Regions from separate parts of the Homo sapiens genome. Here region 1 is linked to region 2. Evidence: fine-mapped expression QTL. A gene starts in region 2. The other region holds a variant in brackets. All regions are shown on one strand. Distances are between the middles of the regions.

Region 1 (8,645 bases), 150 kb before region 2:
GTGGATGGCAGGCCCTAGAGGAGGGTGAGGAGGAGCAGTGGCTGCTCAGGAGCTGAAGGGAGACAGACCACAGGTGTGGCATGTAATGGAGCACCACAGCCCAAGCAGAGGTGAGGTGAGTCATGGAGAGAAAGGAGTGGAGAAGGTGCAGTGGAGTGGGGGGGATAGAGGTGGTGCAGAGAGGGAGGTCCCGGAGCTGGCACTGCCAGCCCGTGTCTGTGTGGGCAGGAGCCCCAGGGAGGTTTGCAGTAGTAGCTTCAAGAGGGGAGGGCTCTCTGGTCTGATCCCGCAGCAGGTCTGGTCTTTCAGACCCGTCCCTATATCATCAGCCTGACTGCAGGAGCAGTGGCCGGCATTCCTAGGGCCCCTGGGGGCTGCGTCCCACCCTCCGGGCACCCTGATACCTTGGTAAGCTTTCTCACGCTTCTTCTTCTCGGTGTCGATGTACTGCTCAGACGCCGCCTTGATCTTCTGCACCCAGGCGGTCCTACGGGAGAAGCAGGGGCAGCCGTTGGCCGCATCCCACCCTCACAGGTCAGCGTGGAGCCCCAGAGCTCTGCACATGTTCTTCAGTCTTTTGCTAACCTCAACTTTCACAAGTTTCCTATCAAAGACCTGATATTAGTCAACTGAAAGATGCTTATGCTAATGGAGTATGAGAGCTGGTAGTGACCCTTCTTGGCTGACCACAAAATGCCAGGCACTCGCAAGGCGCTGGGACCTGGAGACAGATGATGCATTGGCCCCACGGATGATACCTGTCACGAGGGGTTCTAGCGCACACAGAGGAGCAGCAGCACCCCCCGGGTTGGCGCCGCGGAGGCACTGTTGGAGCTGCAGCCTGAAGGAAGCTGGGAACAGCGGGGATGGCACCCACACAAGGGCGCCTGAGGGGCGAAAGTCTGCAGGTGGAGGGACGAGGGCTGAGGCCTGTGGCCCAAGGAGGCCTCGGAAACCAGCAAAGCACAGTGGGCTGTCGCCTGCGGGCAGCCCCTGCAGGGACTGTAGCAGGGCCTCAGGTGCTGATCTGCCATTTGGGAAGGCTGCTGAGTGGTGTGGGGAGAGACTAGAAGCCGGGAAGCATGTTAGGAGGCAGCTGCAGTGACCAAGGCCTACCATGGGACTGGAGCAGAGGGGATGTGTTAAGAGAGGTTCAGGATACAGAATTAGTGGGGCTTAAGCACGGCTGGAGATGGGTTTATGGCAGAGGGAGACGTCCAGGCCTTCTCCCAGAGTTCAAGGCAGGCCACACATGGTCAGGACTGACCTCTCATTAATGTTGTCTGTTCGGAGGGTGTAGACCCGATCAATGTGGGAAATGTGGAAGACAGGCTCATCGCTGGAAGGGTCTGTGGGCAGTTTCACCAAGACTTCATTCAGGAAAATGGGCTGAAAGAATTAGGGCCAAAACACAGGCTGTGAGATGGGCTAGAACACTCCACCCGCCTATGTCCAGAGAGAGTTCTGTTTGTTCTGAAGAGCCTTGTTGAGAAGGAGAAAGGGGTCTAGCGTCTAAGGTCTTCTACACAGAACAAATGAAACCTCCATTTGTAAGAACAATGAAGCCTCCATTTCTGGAAAAGTCATTATCGAGGTGGGTCAGGTGTTGGGACTGGGTGGGGACAGGAGCTCCAAGCGCCCATGACGGCTGGTGCAAAAGGCTCTCTGCTAGCAACGCTGGTGCTGTGCTGGGGCTCGGCTTACAGAGACCCAATGCTGAATGCACACAGTGGTGAGCCCAGGTGTCACGCTGGCCAGGAGGAAGCCAGAATCTCAGCTGGAATCTGGCTGATGGCCTGTGGCAGGTGGGGAGTGCCCAGCTGCATGGGGCCCTTCCCGTGGGAAGCAGCAAAGGAAGCACGAGCGATCTGGAACCAGGTGAGGAGGGTCCCGTAAGGCCAGCTCAGGGTCTGCCAGGAAGGCCTTAAGATAGAGGCAACACCTCATTAGGCCCCTGATGCTACCCCCAGACGCGTGATACTCACCGTTTTATACATTTTGAATTGAGCATTGGACTTCGAGCTGAAAAGTTTCTCAGAGCCAGAGGAAACAGCAAACTGCTTGACCATGTAGGTAAGAAGCAGGAAGTCATTGAAGAGGAATCCGTGCAGTTCCTTGTTGCTCTTGGTCTTGTATAATTTCCCACTGTGTAAGAGCTTCCGGGGCCCCAGGCAGTTGGTGAGAGAGTTGAAAATAAGTTGCTTAAAGAGAAAGAAAATTTCACTTTTTAAATCCCGGCACAAACCATCCAGTGCCCCTGAGAGGCCAGTGCCCTGGGCCTGAGGATACTGTGGTGGAGTTTTCTAGGTGGGAATGTGGCTAGAATCATTCACTTTGCATGAAAGATCCTTAAATACATTACTCTTCAGAGTCCAAACTGGCCCAGTGAAAATCATTACTTCTAGCCACAGAACACTGATTCTACCAGCTGAATTCAAAGAACTCAAAACAAAAAATCCCAGTGTTCTCTCCTTAGGAGAAAGGAAGATGACAATCCAAGAAGGAATGCCCTTCATGCCTGCAATCCCAGCACTGTTGGGAGACAGAGGCGGGAGGATCACTTGACGCCAGGAGTTCAAGACCAGCCTGGCCAACATGGTGAAACCCCAGCTCTACTAAAAATACGAAAATTAGCTGGGCATCGTAGCAGATGCCTGTAGTCCCAGCTACTTGGGAGATGGAGGCCAGAGAATCGCTCCAACCCGGGAGGCAGAGCTTGCAGTGAGCCGAGATGATCTCGCCACTGCACTCCAGCCTGGGCAACAGAGTGAGACTCCGTCTCAAAAAAAAAAAAAAAAAAAAGAAAAAAAAATGCCTTTGCAGGGGCAGGGTGGTGAGTCCACGCAGGCTGCCTAAGGTGCAGACTGTCCACGTGAGGGAAGGCTCGGAGCTGGTTCCCCACCCAGAGCCTCCCTGGAGGCGCACGGCTTAACCACACAGGCCTGACCTCCGCGAGGCCTTCACACTGCACGTGCGCCTGGATCCACTCCAGTCGGTCCGAGTTTTCCTTCTCCCGAACTCCCTCATTCACTTGAGAGCACAGCTCCTCTGCCCGCTCGAGGGCCAGCTTTAGGGAGGAATGGTCTGCATGGCTCTCCGGGGTGTTCTCCAGAATCTGGAAAAGAGTGGGCAGTGTCACATGGGGGAGCTGCGTCTCTCACCTGCCCACCTGGACCTTCGCAGGACCGCTCCTCCAACCCCATGTTATGGACTGCTTCCATGCCCTGGAAACGCGGCGGTGAACAAGACGACACTTTCCGCCCTTGAGAAACTCGTACTCCCACAAGTTCTTGGGGACACAGGGACAGGTAACGCTGCTGTGACAAGGTGACAGTGCTAAACGGATCAAGTGCTCTGAACTGTGTGGGTCTCTGGTTGCTCTCCGACTGGCTCCCGGTAATAGGCGGGAGCCTCCCGACTCCTTCCGAAATTTAAGCCATGTAAGGGTGCGCCCTCCTGTATAAACTGGCTGCAGCTGTGGTAAGTGTGAACTTGCTGAATAGCAATGGTTCATAACAATTTTGGGGTCACTGATCCTTTTGAAAAAAATCTGATGAAAGCAATGACTCCCATGCCACAGGAAAAATACAATAAAATCACATTGTCAGCATGTGGAAGAAATGCATTCTGTTCATTCTGAAGCGATTTCAAACGACGCATGCTGCAACTGTGAACGCGCAGAGGCCAGAATACAAACGTGTGTGGTCCCTCCAGAAATTAGG[A/G]GCCATCACCAGATGCCCCGTCTGGACTCTCTCACTCTAGTCAGATGAGTGCACAGTCCTTCATTTACAATTCTAAAATGCAGAACAGCCTGAGAGCCTAAAGTTTTTATTCAGTACCCATTTGGTGGCAAAATCTGACCTAAACAGAAGAGATATATTTACTTACTCTTACAGTGATTGTTCTTATGTTCCACTGTAGGAATATTAGTGTGTCTGGTTGTAAGTGCTACCCTAAGGCTCAGTTGAGGAGTCATATATTATATGGTATTTGAGCTACATTCCGAATTCTGAAACACATCTGGCCCCAAGTATTTCAATGAAGGGGCTGTGAACCTGCATTATGGTTCAGTTTAGTGCAGGCGTCTATCACATGAGGTCTATGTTGAGGTCACACAGCTAACAGACCAAAAGTCAAGGAATCATCAATAGAAGTAACAAGCTTATCATATTCCTGCTGCTTTTCTTTGTAAGTTACTGTAATCAATGGTTAATCGTGGGATAATCTTTTGTAAAGTCTGCCTTTTCCTTAGAAGGCTTATGGGCTCAAGAGGGCCCTATTGCTTATCAAAAAGAAAGCTGGAAGGAATTTTAGAAGGAATGTTGAAGCCGAATACAGCGAGGGACACAAATGAACTCTATTTATGATGTGCCAAGTGGAGCCTCCTGGGACATCTAGGAAAGGTGTTCAGGGTGGATGGAGGCAGATCTCAGAGGAAAGACTGGAGTCTAAGGTTACTCTGGTCTTTCTCTGGGTTCAAGATGGGCTCCACAACTGGAGACCTAGAGGGGCCTTTCCCTGCCTGGACAAGTATACTTATGACTTTGAGATGCTGGGGAGTTTCTTGAAAGGTGGGTGACAGGTTACCCAAGTGATACTGGATTCCTCTCTGATTTGCCCACTTCAAGGATTCAGCGTGTTTCTGTGCACACACACACACAGGCATCTGGTCCCCGGGACAGTGGGATCACTTGTGCGGTGTCACACTGTGTGCAGGGTGAGGTGGCATGCTCAGGGCTCCCTGAGGATCTGGCCTCTGTGGACCTCAGCGCATCCTGCTCCTAACTCAGACCCCACTGCCCGGCCTGCACACTCACACTTCTGATGAGCAGTGGGTAGCGGGTGATCCTCTGCATGGGTTTCAGCAGGAAGCTGGAGAGGGGCATTCCTTTACACCGCGGGTCAGATGCCAGCTTCTGCAAAACAACAGTGAGGCTCGTGAGGAAATCACAGCTCCGATCACAGGAAGCACTGGTCTTTGATCGCCTTTTAGATTTCACATTTCTTTTATTTATTTATGTTTCTCCCTGTCTTACTGTTTTAGAATTTTTTTTAGGTGAGTGTTCTATTTTTTATTTTTATTTTAAAATTTGTGTATATTCACAACATACAAGTGTAATTTTGCTACACTGATATGTCGCACTGTAGTAAAGTGAGGGGGCTTCGACTTTCTTTTAAATAACTCAGGATCTAAAATGATACCTATTAGGTTCACAGTAGGAATATCTCAGCTCATGTGCCAAGCCCAGCGGATGCTCCTCAGCTCTTTCCCATGACCTGTGCTGGGACTGTCCCCTGCCCTCTCTTCTCGGAGCTGATTCACACTTGACCCTCAAGACTCAGGCCCTGCTTCCCCTTGTCCAGGCTCTCCCCTGGGACACCTTCCCTCCTTTCCATGACCCTCCCTGGCCACCTTTAGCATACACCACATGTGCACCAGGTGATACAGGGAGAGGCATCGTGTTGCAGTGTCTCTATTCCACACCCGATTTGTGAACGCCAGGCCCAGGGCCCACATCCTACTTGCCTCTACCCCTAGCTCTGGTACACTGCCTGAAGACAGCAGCTGCTGCTCTAGGATGGCAGCTTTTAATGACTGAAAAGTACACTCACTGTAATCCACCTCATCATTTCCCCACTACTGGATATTTAAATTGCCCCCCTTTTGTTTTGGCCGTATCTATATAGGTTGCTGTCACAAGCATCTTCGTGCTTCTTATTTCCATATTTTCTGAGTCTTTTTAAAAAGTAACATTTTAGAACACAGCTTATTGCTAGATTTTGCTTTTTAAGGTAACCTATAGCAGGCCTTTCATGAGGCAGTATTTTTATTTATTTTGACTACTGTTACAATTGTGATGACTTTGAAATCCTATTTACATCATTATTTTAAAACATGCACATATACTAACAATTCTCAGTTTATCTCATTATTCTGATGAATGTTTAATTCTATGGTCTTGGTTTCCATGTTTCTTCCAGTTCATTTCGAGGCAACTCCCTGCCTCCTACCCTTATCACAAATCGAAGGGCTCTGTCCTCACTGCCTTATATTGAATCATTTTTGCATCCCTGAGATCATCGTAAGGAAAAATACGATAATCATTTATTGAATGCTAATAGTAATGTGTTGGTCTCTGAGTTAAAGTCCTTTAAAAGTACTGTGTGATAATCTCCTTTTATAGATGAGGGGACTGAAGGCACCCACATGTTAAATAACTTGCCTCTGGTCACACAATTAGACAGTGACGGGGCCGAGATTCTGAAGCCTGTCTTGTTCTAAGCATAGTATGCTATAGCCTCCTGAGATAATCCTATTTGGTTATGATAGGCTCTTCTTTTCATGTAATGCTTAATTTTATGAATTGTTACTTTAATTAAGAGTTTAACAGCTGTATTTGTAAATGATAGTGGGTTTTAACTTAAACAGGCCTTGGAATCATGGCTACTTTTGCTTTATAGAATGAATTAGGTGACCTTTTTACTTTTTCCTATGATCTGTAACAGTTTGTATAATATAGAATAATCTGTTCCTTTAGAGTTGGAGAGAATTCCCTGTTAAATCCATCAAGTGAACCCAGCTCCTTTTTGGGGTAAGTTTCTCAATTTTCTCCTTGGTGTATAGTATCGTAATAGTAAGATTTTCTATTTTTAAAAGATTTTCTATTCTTATTGAGCCAGTTTTCAAGTTTTAATAGAAAATTACAAATTTTGTTCATGTTTTCACATTTGTTAGCATGTCTTTTGGAATTACATGCACTTTAATTTAAGAGATCTCCTTACATCCATTCTGTTACTTGTGTTTTTTCCTCTTTCTCTATTAGATTCATCAGTTACATTTTATTACCTCTCTTCAATATAACAGTTCTTGGATATATTGATATAATTTGTGCTTTTTACCTTTATTACTTCCTCCATTTTCCTTTTCTAATTTCTATTCTCTGCCTAAACATCTTTATATTTTATTCTTACTTTCTACTCTTTTCTGATAATGAAAATATTTAAATTATATACTCTCCTTAAGTACTGATATGGCTGTTTAATATATCCCAATATGCAGTATTTCATGAACAAAAAAACCCAACAGGAAATATGAAAAAAAGCAAGAAAACAGATTTTACTTTCAATTTCCTCACCATTTTAACAGGTATAATAATAGTTTCTACTACTGAACAACATCAATGCAAATAACTTCTCAAAATATGACTTTCTATTATAATAACCTGTACGAAGGATGTTGTTGACTCATTACATTATACACAGTGTTCTCTCTCTGAGTACAGCTGTAGCTTTACTTCTCATGTTTAACTTGTGACGTGGCATCACGGAACTGATCCTTTCTTCTTCTGCTCATCAGTTTCTGGAAGCTTTGATGACATCTGTGCACACTTCTGGTATATTTACAGGATCACAGATATGCATTTTATATATTATCCTAATTCCTGGTATCGTCTTTGTTTCCTACTCTCATTTCCTTTTGTCCAAGTTTATTCATCTAGTTATTTTAAATTTTATCTTGTTGCATTTTATATATTTGAGTAAGCTATTTTAGGGCCGGGCACGGTGGCTTACACCTGTAATCCAAGCACTTTGGGAGGCCAAGGTGGGCCGATCACCTGAGGTCAGGAGTTCGAAATCAACCTGGCCAACATGGTGAAACCCCGTCTCTACTAAAAATACAAAAATTAGCCAGGCGTGGTGGCACATGCCTGTAATCCCAGCTACTTTGGAGGCTGAGGTAGGAGAATCTCTTGAACTTGGGAGGCAGAGGTTGCAGTGAGCCAAGATCATACCACTGCATTCCAGCCTGGGCAACAGAGCAAGATTCTGTTTAAAAAAAAAAAAAAAAAAAAGAGTAAGCTATTTTATACTCTTTCTGGAATAAGGCAGGTATTAAATGAAGGCAATTTACAAAATTAAGAAAGTGACATTCTGGTTGTTTCTTGGGAGTATAAAGTAGCTGATAAGTAAGTATGCTTAAAAAAAAACACTCTGCTATCAGATGGGGAAAAAATGATGGTCCCAGTGCCAGGAAAAAATCAGGTCTACATAAAGGCAACACAAAACAATCGGAAAATTCTCTGCCGTTTTGGTGTTTCCTTTGGAAACTGATGGGGATGCCCTTCTCCATTGCTGGGATTCCCTGTTGGGCTACTGTGTGCTGTTGCCTCCAGCCTCAGAAGGAGCCTGACCCGCAAGGCCCAGAATGGAATTACCTTTAAAAATTCTTTGAAATCTGTGTCTTCATCTGTCTTCTGCTGTAACAGAGCTGCTCCATTAAGCTGGCAGCTGCAGAACCTGATGTAAGCCTGCATGTGGGACAGCTCAGCGGCCAGGATGTCCCCAATCATCTGCACCGGCATCTTCTCGCCCCCGGTCTTCTTCCGCACCCGCAAAGCCCTGCCAAGAACACACTCTCATTTTGTGTTTCTAAGTGAATGACTTAGGTAATTAAAGGATGAATCCCATGGCAGACCAATGGTAATGATAACCAGTGAGCTACCTAAGAACCTCTGGCACTGGGAAGGAGAACTCAAGAGGAAGAGGAGATAGCTTGGGCCAAAAGCTCTGCTGGTCAAGCCAACCGGGGTGTGATGTCAGCAAAGAAAAAAAAAGTAAATAAAGTCCCTGCAGTTGGGTGGGCT
Region 2 (8,645 bases):
AAACAGACATATAAGCCAATGGAGCAGAACAGAGACCTCAGAAATAACACCACACATCTACAACCATCTGATCTTCAACAAACAAGACAAAAACAAGCAATGGGGAAAGGATCTCCTATTCTGTAAATGGTGCTGGGAAAATTGGCTAGCCATATGCAGAAAACTGAAACTGGACCACTTCCTTACACCTTATACAAAAATTAACTTGAGATGAATTAAAGACTTAAATATAAAATCCAAAACCATAAAACCCTAGAAGAAAACCTAGGCAATACCATTCAGGACATAGGCATGGGCAAAGACTTCATGACAAAAATGCCAAAAGCAATTGCAACAAAAGCCAAAATTGACAAATAGGATCTAATTAAACTAAAGAGCTTCTGCACAGCAAAAGAAACTATCATCAGGCTGGGTGCAGTGGCTCATGCCTATAATCCCAGCACTATAGGAGGCCGAGGTGGGAGGATCACCTGAGGTCAGGAATTCCAGACCAGCCTGGCCTGCATGGTGAAACCCTGTCTCTATTTTTAAAAAATTACAAAAAGGCCAGGCATAGTGGCTCACATCTGTAATCCCAGCACTTTGGGAGGCCGAGGCGGGTGGATCACCTGAGGTCAGGAATTTGAGACCAGCCTGGACATGGTGAAACCCCATCTCTACTAAAAATACAAAAATTAGCTGGGCATGGTGGCAGGCGCCTGTAATCCCAGCTACTCAGGAGGCTGAGGCAGGAGAATCACACTTGAACCCCGGAGGCTGAGGTTGCAGTGAGCCAAGATCGCACCATTGCACTCCAGCCTGGGGGACAAGAGCGAGACTCCATCTCAAAAAAAAAAAAAATAGCTGGACGTGGTGGCACATGCCTATAATCCCAGCTACTTGGGAGGTGAACCTGGTAGGCAGAGATTGTGGTGAGCCAAGATGGCACCACGGCACTCCAGCCTGGGAGACAGAGCAAGACCCTGTCTCAAAAAAAAAAAAAAAAAGAAAGAAAAAAAGAAACTATCATCAGAGTGAACAGGCAACCCACAGAACGGGAGAAAATTTTTGCAATCTATCCATCTGACAAAGGTCTAATATCCAGAATTTACAAGGAACTTAAACATATCTACAAGAAAAAAAAAACCCCACCAAAAAGTGGGCAAAGGATATGAATAGACACTTCTCAAAAGAAGACATTTTTGAGGCCAACAAACATGAAAAAAGGCTCAACATCACTGATCATCAGAGAACTGCAAATCAAAACCACAATGATGGCCGGGTGCAGTGGCTCAAGCCTGTAATCCCAGCACTTTGGGAGGCCAAGGCGGGTGGCTCATCTGAGGTTGGGAGTTCTAGACCAGCCTGGCCAACATGTCTCTACTAAAAAGACAAAAATTGGCAGGGCGTGGTGGCAGGCGTCTGTAATCCCAGCTACTCAGGAGGCTGAGGCAGAAGAATCACTTGAACCCAGGAGGCGGAGGTTGCAGTGAGTTGGGATCGCGCCATTGCACTCCAGACTGGGCAACAAGAGTGAGACTCCGTCTCAAAAAAAAAAAAACACAATGAGATACCATTTCATGCCAGTCAGAATGGTGATTATTAAAAAGTCAGGAAAACAATAGATGCTGGCAAGTCTGTGGCGAAATGGAACGCTTTTACACTGTTGCTGGGAATGTAAATTGGTTCAACCATAGTGGAAGATAGTATGGCAATTCCTCAAGGATCTAGAACCAGAAATATCATTTGACCCAGCAATCTCATTAATGGGTATATACCCAAAGGAATAGAAATCATTCTACTCTAAAGACACATGCACACGTATGTTTACTACAGCACTATTTACAATAGCAAAGACACCAAACCAACCCAAATGCCCGTCAATGATAGACTGGATAAAGAAAATGTGATATACATACACCATGGAATACTATGCAGCCATAAAAAGGAATGAGATCATGTCCTTTGCAGGGACATGGACGAAACTGGAAGCCATCATCCTCAGCAAACTAACACAGGAACAGAAAATCAAACACCCTATGTTCTCACTCATAAGTGGGAGTTGAACATTGAGAACACATGGACACAGAGGGGAACAACACACACCAGGACCTGTTGTGGGGGGGCAATGAGGGAAGGGGACTTAGAGGACGGGTGAATAGGTGCAGCAAACCACCACGGTGCACGTATACCTATGTAACAAACCTGTACGTTCTGCACATATATCCTGTTTTTTTTGTAAGAAATAAAAAAAAATCGGCACACAAGAAAGTCTGCCTTTCTTCAAAAACAGTTTTTTCACAAATTTTTTCCATAAATAAAAAAGGTACTAAAAAAACTTGAATCCAAAAAAAGAAAAAGAAAATGCACCGTTAGATGGTAATAAATATATCACATTTTTGGTAATGTAACTCGTTTATTCTGAATCATTTCTGGAACTTGTTAATATAAATGTTTTACAAGTAAATACAATATGTAAAAATGCTACTTAATGGACTAATATGTACTTTCACTCATTCACTAAACACATATTTTTTACTGAATGCCCATATAACTTTTTTTTTCTTTTTTTTGTTTGAGACGGAGTCTCACTCTGTCGCCTAGGCTGGAGTGCAGTGGTGCGATCTCGGTTCACTGCAACCTCCGCCTCCCGGGTTCAACGATTCTCCTGCCTCAGCCTCCTGAGTACCTGGGACTACAGGCGCACGCCACCATGCCAGGCTAATTTTTTGTATTTTTTAGTAGAGACAGGATTTCACCTTATTGGTCAGTCTCAAACTCCTGACCTGGTGATCCGCCCTCCTCGGCCTCCCAAAGTGCTGGGATTACAGGCATGAGCCAGGGCACCCGGCACATAGATAACTCTTTTTTAAATGTATGAACCAAGATGACTCTACCAGATAAGGCACAGGTGCTGCAGTTAAAAGGATCTTGGTTTGAAACCTGGCTATTGTACTTACTAGCTCAGAGACCTAAAGTAGTCAAACTTCAGGTTAACATTTCACTTACCTTTTTGATGGGAAGATAATAATTACTCCTAGGGCCTTAGTGAGCTTTAAATGATTATGTAAAACACTTAGCATAGAGTCTAACATGCAGTTACGTGCTCGATAAATGACAACCATGGTAAACATATTTTATACTGAAGAAAGTATAGTTGAAGGAGACAGCCAATATGTGACCCTTTTGTCTTACTAAAGATGGAAATTTGTGAAACTCTACATTAAAACTAAAAATCCTAAGGTTACATGATTTTCTACTTTTTAAAAAAGATATACTAACTACATAAGGTTAAAGGATTTTTTAAAATAAGAAAGAAAAAAAGAAAAGCTTCTTGAAAGCTGCTGAGTTTGGGTGATGGGTACATGCTATTTTTGTGAAAATACAAATTTTTTAACACTATTAATCCAATCCCCAAAACATGCCTAACACACCTCCTCATATTCAGGAGAGATCAAGATTTTAGCCTTGAGATGTACCGAACAATGGTAACTCCCTGCTTAGTAATTCTGTACAGGTCAAGTTTTCTTGGACGAGTTTACCTTTCATTACAAAGGTGGGCACAGGGAATAGTTATCAATGCATGGAAGGGTGAAAAAATGCAAGCTTTTCAACTGCTTATTAATATTACATCAAAATAGCAGCAATGCACATTTTTTCCACGTTTTCAAAAACATAAAATACATCCACTTTATTTACTTTTGAAATTACAAGAGAGTCACAGGCACAGCCAAAAAAAGCTAAAGGAAAACACATCAGAGTTGTCAGTATCTTTAAATTTGGAAGGACGTCATTATTAATTCGCGTAAATGTTTTATGCGATGTTTCTAGGTAGCTTTTAGGTTTTATCACTGATTAACAATATAGCAAACCAGCACAGGGAGAGAGGCAATTTTTCGAAACGCTTAAGAAGCTTTAAACTACAAGAGCTATGCTACCTAAACTGAGCTCACTAACAACGTAAAATTTCAAGTCACACCTTGCCTATTTCTGAGTAAGCAAGCAAACACTAGTGAGACAAACTAGAAGCATGGAGCAAAGCAAGTCATTTCTATGCTAACCTTAATTCCTATCGTAAAGGGGTTGGCTCCATCAAAAAATATTCCTATTTCAGTATTAACACAAGTTTCAAATAAAGCACACTTGCCATTGGTAATTCTAGAGCGACAAGGCGCATAATTAATAAATCCAAACGGAGCATCTTTCTATAGAATACAAAGCCATCTGCAGTTTCAGCCTCGGTTTACCCACTCACTATGCATATGCAGACGTCTTTAAAAATAAATAAATAAATACACAAATAAACTTTATCTGGCCTGAGAGATTACATCTCTCGGTGCTTCCTGTATATTCTGGAAGTCAATAACGCTGAAGGTAAATTTAACATTTCCAACTCCGGAGGAACGCGAGCGGTAGACGCCAAGCATCCGCCCACTGTCCTCTCGTGACTCGGGCTACTTTGACGCACCGGGATGCGGCTCACCTGACATTCGGCACCAACCCTTGCCAGGAAGGAAAACCAACTCCGCGAAAATAAAATGGGTCCCCGAGGAGGCGTGCGGGTGCCCCCAGAGCTCTCTTCTGCTCACACCCCGAAAGCGAGGGGGCCACGCCACCCCCGACCCTCGCCGGCGTCCGCCACCTGCCAGACGAGGCCGCGGCCAGGGACCCGGGCTCGGCCGCAAGGAAGGGGCAGCCCAGCCCAGGCCCCCTCGGCGTCTGTCCCGGCCCGGCAGCAGAGGAAGGAACCCGGGGCCGGAGGTTTCCGCCCCGCACGGCCGAGCCCGCCAGGGGCCTAGCTCGGGGGCCGCCCGTACTCCCGAGGACCCGTCCCCATCGTGCGGAGCGCACAGCCGCCTCAGCCCGACCCGCAGAGCCTCCGGGCAGCGGGCGCGGCGCCCGCACCTGCCCCGCGCCTTGCTGCAGCCCCGCTAGCGGCTTCACCCACCTGGCGCCCTCGCCGCGCCTCCCGCTCGTCACAGCGCGACTCCGCGTCCCTCAGCACCGGCAGCCTGGGCGCGGGCAGGCGCGGGGAGACCCTGCTCTGCCGCCGTCGCCGCCACTGCAGCTGGCTTGGTCGTCAGGCCGCCGCCCGCGAACCTGTTGCGTAGCCTGTCACAGCCGCTCAGGGCTCCGCCGGCGCCGCCTCAGCCCCACAACAACATGGCGGCCGCGGCCTCCGCAGGAAGCCGGGGGGCGGGGAGGTAGGCGCCGGGCCGGGCAGCTGACGGCCCGCCCGCTGCCGGGCACCGACTCCCCACCCTCCGGAGCCCGAAACTGCCCGGGCGTGGCTCCTCGCCCCAGGAGTTCCGGGGCATTGAACCCTGAAGGTCTGCTCCGAGTCGGTCGGGTCCGAAGCGCTCCTCTCTGCCCTCGGGGAGGCCCCGAAGCCCCAGACCTGGCAGCCCTTCCTGGAGTTGCACAGACCCACCTGGCTCCTCCTCCCCGAGGTAACATGCTGAGCTTGGGTGGTGCTTTTCCTGCCACGGCAGACGCCGGGGTTTTGGAAAGTCCCAAGCAGTGCCTGCCACATCCCTGTTGCACCCACCACGGGGTTCTCCCTGGAACCTTCTCACTCGCCGAAGTTTTCTCCACTGATCTGGGGGAACGAATTCTCTGGGAATTGGGGGGTGGAAGGTGGGAAGGAGGTTGATCCCACCCTTGCCCATGGGTCTGTTACAGGCCTCTTGAACCCTTCTCAGGGACCTGGAGGACTTAACCATACCCTCGGTCATCCATTCACCATTCCTCGCCCTCCTCCATAACACACGCGGAGCGCCCACGAGGAGCACCCTCTACGCTAGTCACACTCCGCCGAGCAGTAGGAAGACTCTGTCCCCATAGAGCATAGCACGACGAAGCTAAACTTTCCTCCCCACCCCTCGCCAAGGGACAGGCGAAGCTCCTACTCAGAATTTGTCTCTTTTCTCCCCTCCCGGTTCCTGGTCTCCTCACAAAAGACCAGACTTCAACTCAAGCCGCCACCGTATCCCAAAACCCCAAAGGTTTGCCCTTGACAAGAAGCTTCTTCAAGGGGAAAGGCTTTCTTTTGATTGGGGTGAGGGAGGAGTTAGTGTTTCCTAATGAACGTAACCAAATGTCGGCCTGGCACAGTGGCTCACGCTTGTAACCCCGGCACTTTGGGAGGCCGAGGCAGGTGGATCATCTGAGGTCAGGAGTTGGAGACCAGCCTGGCCAACATGGTGAAACCCCGCCTCTTCTAACAATACAAAAATTAGCTGGGCGTGGTGGCGGGCGCCTGTAGTCCCAGCTACTCGGAAGGCTGAGGCAGGAGAATCGCTTGAACCTGGGAGGCGGAGGTTGCAGTGAGCAGAGATTGCACCACTGTACTCCAGCCTGGGCGACAAGAGCGAAACTCTGTCTCAAAAAAAAAAAAGTAACCAAATGTAAGACTCAAGATTTTTGGATATAAGACCCAAGATTTCTTTTTTTTTTTTTTTTTTTTTTTTTTTTTTTCCTGAGACAGACTCTCACTCCGTTGCCCAGGCTGGAGTGCAGTGGCGCAACTGTGAGATCTGTGCTCACTGCAACCTCCGCCTCCCAGGTTCAAGCAATTCTCCTGCCTCAGCCTTCCAAGTACCTGGGATTACAGGCACTTGCCACCACGCCCGGCTAATTTTTGTATTTTTAGTAGACACTGGTTTCACCATGTTGGCCAGGCTGGTCTCAAACTCCTGACCTCAGGTGATCCACCCGCCTCATCCTCCCAAAGTGCTGGGATTGGCGTGAGCCACCACGCCCGGCCAAGACCCAAGATTTATTTTGGCTTTTAGAAGCAGGGTGAGGGCTGGTCTGGGGTCCAAAACTCATATCCCTTGATTTGATCTGTGTAGATCAAATAACCCCTGGCATCCTTTCATTCCTTACCTGTTGAGGCAGGTGAAGGTGAGATGGCTCCAAACCCAGGCCTATCTGAACTGGCCAGCCAGCTTAGGAGGAATTTACCAAACATCGATGATGATAAACAGGCTTTTCCCGCTCTCACACTCAGTGTTTTTCCTAACTCTTCGATTAGAACCTGACCAAGACCTGACAGACAGGTCCTGAGCTTCAGTGACACAGAGAAGCCTGACTCTTTTATCAGTCTAGGAGGCCCCTCACTTGCTGGGGACCAGCCAATCTGTCCTTATCTGCAAACAAACCACCCAGGCCAAGGATAGCAATCTTGAGCACGTGGCCTCATTCCCATTGCACCCTTCACCAGTTAACTGATATGCTCTTTTGGAGCCCATATTTGAGAGTCAAAGCCCCAGAATCCTTCACAACATAGTGCTCCAGAGAGTTGGTCTGAGAGGTAAAACCTATTTTTTATTCCTGTTAGGCACATAGCTAGTCTTCATTTTTCTCCCATCCTTTGACCAATGTCATTTGTGTTTTCGGGTTCTAGACCTGGTGCAATTTACCCTGAGTCTCCTTTCCTTCTAAAGGAGGTGCCAAATCCTTGGCAGGACAAAAATGGAATTTGTAGAAAGAGATGCTTATAAAGGAATAAAAAAAAATTTAAAGCCCCCCTAAAATAAACCAAAAAACTAACAACCTCTGCTGGAAATCAGGGTCCTGAATGCATGCCTACAGTATCCCAAGTACTAAAACAACTGTATCCCAGAGTTCCCTTCAGAACTTTGAGGCCAGTTTGTCCATCCTGTCCTACTCTATCACAGCCCAAAATGCAAGCACCTCCAGTTATCTATCTTCTCTCTCACACATACCTCCCACCCTGTGTGATTCAGGGATAAATTTGGGCAATATTAAGCATTTGGTGGTTGGATATAAGGAATGAGAAGGAGTAAAGGGTTCTTGGGTTTTTGGGTAATGGTAGTTCTATTCAACAAGATAAAGAATGGAATACAGGAGGGAAGCACAGACCTTGGAAGTGGCTGAAGAAACATTTTCCTTGCTCCTCGACTGCATCCAGATCCTAGTTTTCCACTCACATGCAAAAGCCCCTTCTCCTATGAGGCTTATAACACTAGCTACACCCATCCTCTATCCTCATCCTTATCATTTACCATCTTCCAGGGCACTCAATATATTCCTCAAGAATTTCTGCACATGGAGCAGCCAGTACTCTCCGCCCAGGACCTTCATCATCCTTAGTGTCTTTCAGTGTTCATGATTCATTTAGATGATGCAGCCGCCATCCCAGTTCCTTGACTTCCTCTTCTCATAGGGCAGCCTTGGAAGTGTGTCTATACATTTCCTCCTTAGTATTCTCCAAATCCCAGCATCTTTTCTTTACTTCTGGCACCAGCTGGAAATCAAATACCTGGAGGAGCTAAGTCCTACCATGTTACATTTCTCTTCCTCTAGTTCTGCCACAGTCTAGGCAAGATTCTTAGACTTGTTCCTGGTGACCTAGCTTTTACCCTGGGAGCGTTTAGTCTCTATCTGTTTTCTTTTCCATGTATTATTGATCCTTCTCCTCAACCATATGTATCTTATGTTCTATCAATCTCCCCTTAAGTTAGTTTTCAAAGATTCCATCCTGTACCCCATTTCTACCATGTTTACCCCCAAAACAAACCTGCAGTGTAAGAAGAGTATAGAATAGGTAGAAGCAACAGTTCTAGAGTCCAGGCATCCCATAAGATAAATACCATTATCATATAGAGTAGAAAGACTGAGAACCTGGAGCTCATATTTCA

Which allele goes with the higher level. Alleles are on the strand shown, and positions count from the first base shown. SD is a standard deviation of normalised expression in the study named.
In carriers of allele A in region 1, the expression in thyroid of the gene that starts at base 5,160 in region 2 tends to be higher than with G alone (small effect, 0.26 SD a copy in GTEx).

What was found. PIP is the estimated chance that this variant, and not a neighbour inherited with it, causes the effect.
Region 1: its variant is fine-mapped to the expression of ITSN2 in thyroid (GTEx, PIP 0.93).

Annotation. Positions count from the first base shown.
Region 1 is chr2:24,207,833-24,216,477 of GRCh38, forward strand. It overlaps ITSN2 (intersectin 2), which reads right to left. Exons shown (of 40, transcript NM_006277.3): 32 at 8,217-8,400; 33 at 4,818-4,916; 34 at 2,948-3,115; 35 at 1,986-2,201; 36 at 1,268-1,389; 37 at 405-487. Among named protein-coding and RNA genes, the nearest start is that of FAM228A, 37 kb to the left of the region's middle. RefSeq lists an enhancer at 7,266-7,335. The variant A/G (reference allele first, on the strand shown) is at 3,723.
Region 2 is chr2:24,355,377-24,364,021 of GRCh38, forward strand. It overlaps ITSN2 (intersectin 2), which reads right to left and starts at 5,160. Exons shown (of 40, transcript NM_006277.3): 1 at 4,928-5,160. RefSeq lists silencers at 4,574-4,973, 4,984-5,033, 5,044-5,343 and an enhancer at 5,444-5,593.